Linked DNA regions of Homo sapiens. The protein of the gene in region 1 purifies or fractionates together with the protein of each later gene. This does not show direct contact. Each region holds a gene or a part of one and is shown on either strand. Other genes may lie near its edges.

Region 1 (3,748 bases):
TGAATGAACTTACTTTATTCAAGTTTTCACTTTTTCTCCATTTTGACTTTTTGTTGTTGATACTCTGTTAGACAGCGACTTTCCCCTTTTGTTAAAGAAAGGGCTCCATACTGAAATGTTTTCTTTTATTTCCTTCAAGTTGAAAAAGCATCAGAATCTGAGGAGTCAGATGAGGATGACGGTCCTGCACCTGTTATAGTAGAGAATGAAAGCTATGTGAACCTTAAGAAAAAGATTTCCAAAAGATATGACTGGCAGGCAAAGTCAGTACATGCTGAAAATGGTAAAATCTGCAAGCAGTTCCGAATGAAACAGGTAGGGTATGCTGAGAGAATGAGTAACGTTGCCTCCCTAATATCTGGATGATGGGATTAGGAATTAGGGAGCTTTGGCTACCCTCCTTAAAATTCTTCTGGTTCTTTTTCTCCCTGAGTGGTCAAAGTTTCTACAGGCCACAGCAAACTTAAGTGCATATGCTAGATGGTTTTGGAAAATCCTATAGCTGGTACATAGCAAACACACACATATATGCCAAATAGTCTCAGAGTCATGTGCCTTTGGTACTGTGACAGACAATCTGGTATGTAAAAGGAATATCAATACTGTGGTTTACTGGCCGGGCACGGTGGCTCACACCTGTAATCCCAGCACTTTGGGATGCCAAGGTAGGCAGATCACCTGAGGTCAGGAGTTCAAGACCACCCTAGCCAACATGGCAAAACCCTGTCTCTACTAAAAATACAAAAATTAGCCGGGCGTGGTGGCAGGTGCCTGTAATCCCAGCCACTTGGGAGGCTGAGGCACAAGAATTGCTTGAACTTTGGTGGTGCAGGTTCCAGTGAGCCATGATTGCACCACTGTACTCCAGCCTGGGCAACAGAGCAAGACTCTGTCTCAAAAACAAAACAAAACAAAATAAAAACAAATACTGTGGTTTAGAGCCAGGCGGGCGTGGTAACACATGCCTGTAGTCTCAGCTACTTGGAAGGCTGAGGCAGGAGGATCACTTGAGACAATGCCAGCCTGGAAAACATAATGAGTCCCTGTCTCTAAAAACAAAACAAAACAAATACTGCGATTTACCTTAGAAAAAATTAATATATAAAAGGAGAAGGATAAGGAAGGACTTTTACCCTGTTTCAAAGACTCAAAGGATAAATAATGTGCCCAAGATCGCATAGCTAGTAAGTGGTTTAGCCAATTCTGTTTCTAAAGTCCATTTTGTTTTTACCCCATTCACATGAAGATTATTTTAAAAGAATTCATAAGTGAATCCTGAGGGCAAAGTTAGAGATAGGACAGAGGCAAGTTGCTTAACCAATATGGGAATTGGATTAAATGCTCTCTAGGCCCTCCAGTTCTAAAGTTCTGTGAGTCTGATTTTTGACACCATGTAACACCATCACATATGTAGTACAATACCCAAAGAACATCACAATGTATATAAATTGCACTGTAGGTAAGATGATAGAAACAAAAAATTAGATATTCAATTTGATCAGTGTGATAAGTTTATGATAAAATTATATGTAGGAAATAGCAAGTTCCTGTAAATTTATTACAGTATTCAAAAGTATAGCCAGAGTTTTAACAAACAAGGCAATTTTTATAGCATTGGCCATTAAATATGAAATTGATTTATATAGTTGTAGTGACTGCCCAAAAATAACCCTTTAGTGAGTGCTTTTCTATTATTGATTTAGGTAAAAATCTGATATTGCTTAGAGCTACGCTGTCTGATATGGTAGCCCCTACCCATGTTTGGCTGTTTATATTAATTAATTAAAATTAAAAATTCAGTTCCTCAGTAACACTATTCTTCACATTTCAGGTGCTCAATAGCCACATGTAGCCAGGTGTTGCTGTATTGGACAGCACAGGTATAGAACATTTCCATCAACACGGAAAGTTCTATTGGACAGTACTGGTATAGAGACTCTTGTTGGGAAGAACTGGATATGTGCTAAGCAAGAGGGCTTTATTTCACCCAGAAAATCTTTCGGTTTATTCAGATGTTGGAAAACTAATGTACAGATTCCACAACTCATTCTGGCTGATTCTCTGAGCAGCATTCTGAATAAAGTCTTCTACATCCAATCCCAACAAATCCAACAAAGGATCACTCAAGGCCAGGAGTGCAAGACCATCCAGGGCAACATAACAAGACTCTGTCTCTATAATTAAAAAAAAAAAAAAGCTGTAATCCCAGCACTTTGGGAGACCAAGGCAGGTGGATTCTTGAGCACAGGAGTTTGAGGCCAGCCTGGGCAACATGGTGAAGTCCTGTCTCTACAAAAAAATACAAAAAGCCGGGTATAGTGGCACACACCTGTAGTCCCAGCTACTTGGGAGCTTGAGGCGGGAGGATCGCTAGAGCCTGGGAAGTGCAGATTGGAGTGAGCCGTGATCGCACCACTGCACTCCAGCCTGGCAACAGAGTGAGACCCTGTCTCAAAAAAAAAAAAAAAAAAAGAAAAAGTAACCCAACTGATATCTTATCTTTGATTTTATTAGGCTTCCAGACAGTTCCAGTCCATTCTGCAAGAGAGGCAATCACTCCCTGCTTGGGAAGAAAGAGAAACCATTCTTAACTTATTGCGTAAGCACCAGGTGGTTGTCATAAGTGGTATGACTGGGTAAGAATGCAGTTTATTCATCTGTAGCTTTCATCTATAAATATTATATGCACCCTGGTTACCATAACCAGTTGAACTTGTTAAAAACTGTAGCTGGATTTATAGATATTATATACATCTGCCTTGAGACATAAGGCAAAAAAATCCAGCTGAAGACTTTTAACAAGGCTCATGTTTAAATTTAAAGGATAGTTCTAGAACATTTAGCTTGAGAGCTTTTTATCTTCTGAATTTATTCTGATTTCCTGTCACGCAGGCTGGAGTGCAGTGGCATGATCTCGGCTCACTGCAACCTTTGCCTCCTGGGTTCAAGTGATTCTCATGCCTCAGCCATCCGAGTAGCTGAGATGACAGGCGCACCACTGTGGTGCACCACCATACCCAACTAATTTTTGTGTGTTTTTAGTAGAGAGGGGTGTTTTACCATGTTGGCCAGGCTGGTCTCGAACTCCTGGCCTCAAGTGATCCGCCTGCCTCGGTCTCCCAAAGTGCTGGGATTACAGGTGTGAGTCACCACACCCAGCCTTTATTTTTCTTTTAAAAACAACTTAATTATGGTGCGTTATTTTTCCTGCTTTACATTCTCCTATTTAGCAGGGACAAATTGCAGACTTCATTTATTTATTCAAGAGTATACAATTTAATAATTATATTTGTGTCCAGACTCAGTGATATGGTAATAATTCGTACCTTCTAGTTTATCTTTTTAACCTCAGCCTAATCATAGCTAAATTAATACCTATAAAATATTTTGATAATCATAAGCTAATACTCCTTTTCTTTGGGGTTCATGTGTAGAGTTTACGTTCCTAGAAGCATTTACAGACCTTAATTTAATGTCTGTTCAATAGTCCCAATTTTACAAATGTTACTAAACTATTATTTGATTGTCCTTTTGATTGGAGTGCAAATTCCTAGAATTTCCCACCTCTTGGTAATAAGTCAGGAGGTTGTTTTAGAAAATACCTGAAACTGAACAACTTTTATTCTAATTAGCTTTATCACTTTTCTCATTCCATATGATTGCTTCTTTAGTTAACTAGCCCTTGAAAACTTCATTTTAGGACTTATTTGTTTTAATGTACAGATGTGGGAAAACCACACAAATTCCG
Region 2 (3,748 bases), on another chromosome or scaffold:
GGTATCCGGGGCTTTTCAGTGACAGCCGGGGCGACAGGCCAGGCTGAGCCTGTGGCTCCAGGGTCCAAAGAGAAAGGAGGGCAGAAATAAGAGAAGATGGCCTTTATTGCAGCACGAACTGAGGGGGACTGCATGTCCACAGCTCTCCAGGAGCTGCCAAAGGCGACGGGCCCGCCCTGCCCCTGCAACAGGCCCTCCAGGGGCTAGAGCATGGCTCCCCTCAGGAAGGGTAACGCGTGCTTGTAAACAAGGGCCCAGACAACACAGAGAGGAGAGGCAGCATCATCAGGTGCAGCTTTGCTACAAGAAAGATAGTTCTTAATTTCAAAGAGGAGACACCGCTACACCTAGCCCTGCCCTCCCATGCACTGGAAGGCTCTGGAAGTAGCTCTCGCCTGCCTGGGCAGTTAGGTCCACCCACTGCCCGTGAGCTGGGCCCAGGCACACTGCAGCCACACAAAAACGCTGGCAGCTGACTCCTAATTTCAGAAACACAATTAGAAAAGAACTGGAATTTTACATTTTTCTCCCATACATTAAAAAATAAGAAAAAGCCAACATTTTGACTGTAGACCCTGGTAGGTGGCATCTGACTTTAACCTGAAGTTCTCATTGGAATCCTTTTCTGTCTGGCGCTCCACCGCCCACAATCAGCCCCAGCCCCAGGCGCCCCTTGCCGAAGGATCCTGGCCCATCTCACACAAGGGCGGGACCCCGTGGAGTGCCCGGCGAGCAGGGCAACCACTGGGAAGACAGATACTGATTTCCCTGTTGGGGTCTGTGACCCTCAGCAAACGAAAAGGAAACGGTAACAAGACGGTGGCCTCCTGCCAGGACCTCAGCAGGAGGTTTGCTGGTGAAGGTTCTGGGTGAGCTGGAATGGGTGATAAGGCGGGCTTGCTGGGTGGTGGCCTCAGGCTGTTCCTGGGCCCCTGTCGCATAGAGCCCTGTGGGTGCAGTGTGGGGCCCCACAGCCGTCCCGGGGTCGTCCTGATGCATAAGAGCAGAGACCCCGGAAGAGAAACCCGCCTGCCCCGTGTGATACAGGGCTCCCAAACGCTTCCCGGTGGAACCCTGCTCCCGAGGACACCTTGTCTCGCTCCACGGAACCCTTCCCCCAGCACCCCCTGGAAACACAGCAGCCAGGAACAAATTCTCCATGCCAGGAACAAAGCCCTTGGCTAAACTGGAGACTCATCAGTGCACAGATGGTGGTGAGGGGTGAGGGCAGGGCGTGGGGTGGTGCTCAGCCCTGGGGACACCATCACTGTCCTGCTCTGACCCACAGGTGAGAGGAGGATGCTGTGCTCCCGGAGTGTGGCGCCGGGAGGATGGCTCGGCAGGACAGAGGCCTGGGGCTGAGGCTATGCCCAGGGCCGGTGTGGGGAGGGACATGGGGGCCTTTGCAGAAGCAGCTCAGAGAACTGAGGTTGGAATCCTGCCCCAAGCACAGGTTTTGGGGACAGCGAGTGCCTAGACAAGGCAGGTAACGTGGCAGCCACCGGGCTGGTCCAGAAACAAGGTGCTGAAGACGTCGTTGAAGAAGGTGGGGTGGTACCTGCAGGCTCGCTCACAGTCGGGGTTGAAGTTCACCTCCAGGATCTGCGGCTGCATCACCCGCCTTCCTGATGGCAAAGAGCGCAGCAGAGTGTGAAGGCTCGTTGGCCTCCACTCTGCAGGGACAGTGGCCTGGGGATCCAGCAAAGGCTGGGAGGCCATGAACCTGGGCCCTGATTCCCAGGGGATGAGCAGGACAAGGCCGGGCCTAGAACTTGGGTCTCTTGACTTTGCTGGGGAGGCCTGGCCTGACATCTGCTTCTCTAGGAGAGGCCAGGGCTGCCTCCAGCCCTAGGGATGACAGCCTGGCCCTTTAAGCTTGGATGTTCAGTTTAGTAAAAAAAAAAAAAAGTAGATATGCAGCAGCAGTGTACTGTGTGGGGGTCTGGCACAGGGAAGGCCAGCCAGGGTGGTGTGGGTTGGGGTCAGGGTGCCTTTCACACGGGTCTCCTGTCCTGTGAGCTCTCCCCCGACTCAGAGGCCCAACCCGCAGCCTTTCCCCTCCAGACTCTGCACCGCAGGCACTTCCTGTGGGCCAAGCCAGGGCTTTCCCCAACCCAGATTCCTGGCTGATTCAAGCCAGAGGACAGCCTGGGGCAGCTGCCTGCCTTCTCCAGGCTGTGGCTGGCTGGCGGAGGGGGCGCCTGCTGGTTTGGATCAGGAGATGGGGAGCCCCTCTTACCATCTGGGCCGTTGTCCCACTTCAGCATGAGGTCGACGGCATACATGGCCCGGGATGAGGGGTAGTCGCAGAGGCCCAGGGGTGGTGGCTTGGCACAGGCCACCTGGAACAGCTCCGTGAAGGCCCGGAAGATCTCAGCCTGGGGACCGGGGAGCCTGAGTTACGAGGCCTGCTCAGAACAGCCTCTCAAGAGGGGGTCTGCTGCCCCTGCCCAAGTCCCGGGCCCCACGTGGCCCAAGTCACCCCCTCCCACATCTTCACGTCTCTAGACCTCACCATGGCCACCTCCGCCCAGCACCTGCCCTCTTACTCCTGACGCCCACCTTCTGCAAATCTGCCCATCTCCTGCCGCAGACCCCGTTGCTCCCCACTGCCCCAAGGAGCTCAACACAGCACCCAGAATGCCGCTGCTGGACATGGAGGCCCAGCCAACGTCTCCATATGACTGGGAATCTAGGGTCAGGCAGTGCCGCCACCCTCTGGCTGTCCCAGGGGTGCCCCACATGCCCCTCCAGCTCCCTCCCTCTCAGGAGCACCCACAAATGCCCAGGGTGGAAGGGAGGGGAGCCCACGCTGTCTTGCCAGCCTCTGGGGAGAATGACCAACTGCAGGGGACAAAGGTCCCTCCCAGCCCATGCCAGCAGAGAGGGAAGGGAGCAGCTCCTGCAGGCCCCCAGCCCGGGACCCGCCCCACCGGCCTGCGATGGTGTGCAGGACAGGAATTACCTGGACGTCCGTCCAGGGAAATTCTGGGTATTGCTTCTCAAACTCGGGGATGAACTCTTCACAGTGCACCTGCAACAGACACAGGGCCCATCACGCTCTGTACAGGCCTCCGCTGGGCCGGGAGCAGGCAGCCTGCTACTGCCTGGACCAGGAGCTTCTGACACTGGGTGGGGGTTCCAGGAGCAGGCAGCCAACCCCGAACCCTCAGGGTCCAAACAGGAGGCAGGAGATGGAGTCTGGGCTCCAGGTCTTACTGTGTGACTCTGGACCAACGGATTAACTTCTCTGAGCCTGTTTCCTCCTCTGTGAAATGGGAAAATGTGCTCTGCCCAGTAAACTGACTTTGCCACGCAGCTGTGAGGCTCACGCGAGACAATGAACATCGAGGGCTCCAGAAACTGCAGGGCCTGGGCTGGCACCATCCTCACACTCAGCTCAGTACAGTGCGAAGGAGGCAGAGCTCAAGACTCCGCCGCGGGACCTGCCTGTGCCCTGGTTCAGCACCAGCTCAAGAGTGCTTGAGGGATGCAAGATCTTTCTGGCCTCAAGACTTTACCCAAAACACACCCGAGGAAGGTGGCAGTCGGCTCAGGTTTCTCCCAGAAAAGAACAAGCCAGGAAAGGCCCCTATGGAAGCCCGCCATCCATGCCATGCTGGACGTACCTCCCCAGGCACAGAGCTCCAGGAGAGGACTCCCGGGATGACCCCCACAGTACAGAAGGGAGGGGCTCAGAACCTGAGGGCGACTTCCAACAATGTCCTGGGGCCCTGCTGGGGGGTCT
Region 3 (3,748 bases), on another chromosome or scaffold:
GCCAAGGTCCCACCTCCCGCAATTCTAATTTAGTTATCTGGGGTGGGGCCCCAGCATAACAGCCAGGGTGAGGACCATTGTTTACACCATTTATTGATCACTTTCTCAAGTATAAGGCACTATGCTAAGTGCTTTCTAGGTGGAAACAGAATTAATTTGTTCACTCAACAAATATTTTTGATGGCTATATTGCAAGCAGCAAGAATACAGCAGTGAAAAGACAAAGCCCTTGGCCTTCATATAATTCAGAATCTGATAAACAGGATTTCAAAGCACAGATTCTATAAAGTGAGTGAAATAAACAGTAACTGTATGATGGGGAGGGAGAGTGTGCAATATTTTAGTGTAAGTAGACAGGAGAAGCCATTGAGGAGGTGGTCTTTGAGCTGTTATCTAAATGATGAGAAGACAGCAAGGCCTGTAAAGATCTAGGGGGCCTAAGTGGGGTGGTTCACACCTGTAACCCCGGTACTTTGGAAGGCTTGGTGGTGGAGGATCACCTGAGGCTAGGAATTTGAGAACAGTCTGGACAACACAGCAGGACACCCTCTCTTAAAAAACAAACAGGCCGGGCGCAGTGGCTCACGCCTGAAATCCCAGCACTTTGAGAGGCCGAGGCAGGCGGATCACCAGAGGTTGGGAGTTCGAGACCAGCCTGACCAACATGGAGAAACCCCGTCTCTACTAAAAATACAAAAAATTAGCCAGGCATGGTGGTGCATGCCTGTAGTCCCAGCTACTCGGGGGGCTGAGGCAGGAGAATTGCTTGAACCCAGGAGGTGGAGGTTGTGGTGAGCTGAGATCGCACCATTGCACTCCAGCCTGGGCAACAAGAGTGAAACTCCGTCTCAAAACAAACAAACACACACCCCAAAAACTAGGGGGACCAGCATTCCAGCCAGAGGGAACGCGAGTATAAAGCCCTGAAGGCAAAACCAAGTAGATTTGAATCCATGGCTCCAATACCCTGAATGCTTCCCCGATCCTGACAGAGGAAGCAGGCAGGGCAGCATACCACTGCCAAGAAATGACCCCTCCAAGTCAGCCCTCCCTGCCCAATTCCCTGGACTGGGGAGTCAGTAATAACAATGGTGCATAACAAGGCTGGTTACCACTGGCTAAGCATTAATTTCACATGCACTACCTGGACTTTAGGGCAGAAGCTACTACTAGGGCTTCCATTTTACAGATGAGGAACAAGGCTCAGAGAGGTCAACTCACTTCTGGCTACTCAGGCAGGAAGGCAGTAGCAGGGCTGGGATACAACCCAGGTTTCTGCAAGTGCAGAAATGATTCCCCATTCTCTAAACTTCTCAAGGTCTCAATAGTCTCCAGGCTGCTGCATCTGGGACTCACCAAGAATGAGAAGCTCCAGTCACAGCACCTGTCACACTTGGGGGCACACACTGAATCTAGTTCTTTGTTGTTACCCCAGTGCCTAGCATAGCACAGTCCAACAGAATTTTCTGCGATGATGGAATGTTTTATATCTGTACTGTCCAAGAAATGTGAGTCTCTAGTCACTGTGGCTGAGCATTTGAAATGTGACAAATGCAACAAAAAATTTTCATTTTATTTAATTTTAATTTATCTAAATTTAAATAGCCACATGTAGTGAGGGGTTACCATATTGGATGGTACAGGTTCAGTAGACCTGATAAAGGCATGATTCCAGTTCCACGTAACAGAACAAGAAAAGTGCAACACAGAGGGGTCAGGTCACCTGTCCAAAATAACAGCTAGTGTGGGACAGAGGGAGAACCAGTGTTGGGTATTTTTATAATTTCAACTAAACAGATCACATGGGGCAACAGGAACACTAAAGTTAACCCTTTAGGTGGTCATTCAACATGAAGGTCTTCACACAAACTGTAAAAAGAGGATAATGGCCCCAGACCTGTGCCTGGCTCCTAATTTTTTCTTTTTTTTTCTTTTTTTCTTTGAGATGGAGTCTCGCTCTGTCACCCAGGCTGGAGTGCAGTTGCGTGATCTTGGCTCACTGCAACCTCCGCCTCCTGAGTTCAGGCAATTCTCCTGCCTCAGCCTCCTAAGTAGCTGGGAGTATAGGCATGCGCCACCAAGCCCGGCTAATTTTTGTATTTTTAGTAGAGACATAACCTGCTCACCTTGGCCTCCCAATATGCTGGGATTATGGGCGTTTGAGCCACCGTGCCTGGCCTTTTTTTTTTTTTTTTTTAAATAGAGATGAGGTCTCACTGTGTTGCCAAGGCTGGTCTCAAACTCCTGGGCTCAAGCGATCTTCCCACTTCAGCCTCCCAAAGTGCTGGGATTACAGGCATGAGCCACCATGCCTGGCATGGATCCTAATTTAAGCACTTACTATATGTTAACTTTTAAATTAGCTCAGGTACTTGCACACAGGTTCCATCTAATTTTCATCTGTTTTGGGGCGGCGGCAGAGTCTCTATTTTGCACACAAGACTAAGGGTTCAAAGGTTAGGCACCAGCTGACAAGTAGCCAATCTGAGATCTGAACCCACGGCTGCCTGGCTTCTAAGGTCCATTCCACTTCATAATAACAGCTTTGGGAAGCAGCCCCAGCCTTGGAGAGTTGAACCCAGCTCAGTCTGGCTTCCAAGGGTTCTGTCTACTACCCATATCGGCTTCTTGGAGAAGCCCCAGACTTTATTCTCGGTTACCCTATATTATCCTTTATAGAGCCTGTAAGTCCCTGGTCTCAGCTACAGACACCTGGTTACCCACTCTGCCAGCTGGGAAGGAACAGACACTATTTCTCCTTCCCTCACCCCCAGCTGAATTCAGATATTTTCCTGGGTTTATGCCTGAGAAGACGATACGGAAATACAGCCCAAGCAGCCCAGGACCTCCAGCCTTGGAGTGGGCAGGGTGGAGGGGGTGTGAGTGAGTGGTGCCATACACTTGTCTGCCCATCATGAGCTGGGAACCACGCTAAGTGCTTTACACATCTGATTGTGCCAATTCCTCCCAACCACCCAGAGGGAAACAGTTCTTATAATCCCTTCTTCGGAAACAGGTCAGAGAGGCTCAGAAAGGTCCTCTTCCAAATGGGCACAATTCAGATCTGACTCCACGGCTGGAATAGTTCACAAGGGTCAGCTAAGCCAGCAAGGGGCAACTAGTCACGAACACTTATTAGGTGCAAAGAGCAGTGCTGGGGATGAGACTTGCAGGGTATCTCCAGCAAGGGACTATTTCACATAATTGGGACCAAAGCTCCTACAATGGAGGGAATGGAGGAGGGTGTGCAAGGGGACTTATCTAGTGGGGGAGGAAGGGCTTCCCTGAAGAAGAAATGATGTCTGAGAAAGTTTGTTTTGTTTTGTTTTTTTTGAGACGGAGTCTCACTCTGTCACCCAGGCTGGAGTACAGTGAAGCGATCTCGGCTCACTGCAACCTCTGCCTCCCAGGTTCAAGCAATTCTCCTACCTCAGCCTCCGGAGTAGCTGGGAGTACAGGCGTGTGCCACCACGCAGGGTTAATTTTTTGTATTTTTAGTAGAGACGGGGTTTCACCGTATTAGCCAGAATGGTCTCAATCTCCTGACCTTGTGATCCACCTACCTCGGCCTCCCAAAGTGCTTGGATTACAGGTGCGAGCCACCGCGCCCAGCCTGGTTTTTTTTTTTTTTTTTTTTTTGAGACAGACTCTTGCTCTGTCACCCAGGCTGGAGTGCAGTGGCATGATCACAGTTCACTGCAACCTCCGCCTCCCAGGCTCAAGCAATCCTCCCACCTCAGCCTTCGAA

Evidence for each region.
Region 2: the proteins of DHX57 (region 1) and TTLL12 purify together in Homo sapiens (affinity purification with mass spectrometry; 2 studies listed by BioGRID and IntAct, with this or other methods). This does not show direct contact.
Region 3: the proteins of DHX57 (region 1) and SESN2 purify together in Homo sapiens (affinity purification with mass spectrometry; 2 studies listed by BioGRID and IntAct, with this or other methods). This does not show direct contact.

What each region holds. Positions count from the first base shown.
Region 1 is NC_000002.12:38,855,228-38,858,975, reverse strand, and holds part of DHX57 (putative ATP-dependent RNA helicase DHX57), read left to right. Parts: intron 1-139; coding exon 140-315; intron 316-2,514; coding exon 2,515-2,636; intron 2,637-3,723; coding exon 3,724-3,748. UniProt on the Homo sapiens protein: Probable ATP-binding RNA helicase.
Region 2 is NC_000022.11:43,166,535-43,170,282, forward strand, and holds the end of TTLL12 (tubulin--tyrosine ligase-like protein 12), read right to left. Parts: intron 3,035-3,748; coding exon 2,966-3,034; intron 2,379-2,965; coding exon 2,240-2,378; intron 1,626-2,239; coding exon 1,474-1,625; 3' UTR 88-1,473; downstream 1-87. UniProt on the Homo sapiens protein: Negatively regulates post-translational modifications of tubulin, including detyrosination of the C-terminus and polyglutamylation of glutamate residues. Also, indirectly promotes histone H4 trimethylation at 'Lys-20' (H4K20me3).
Region 3 is NC_000001.11:28,262,513-28,266,260, reverse strand, and holds part of SESN2 (sestrin-2), read right to left. Parts: intron 1-3,748. UniProt on the Homo sapiens protein: Functions as an intracellular leucine sensor that negatively regulates the mTORC1 signaling pathway through the GATOR complex. In absence of leucine, binds the GATOR subcomplex GATOR2 and prevents mTORC1 signaling.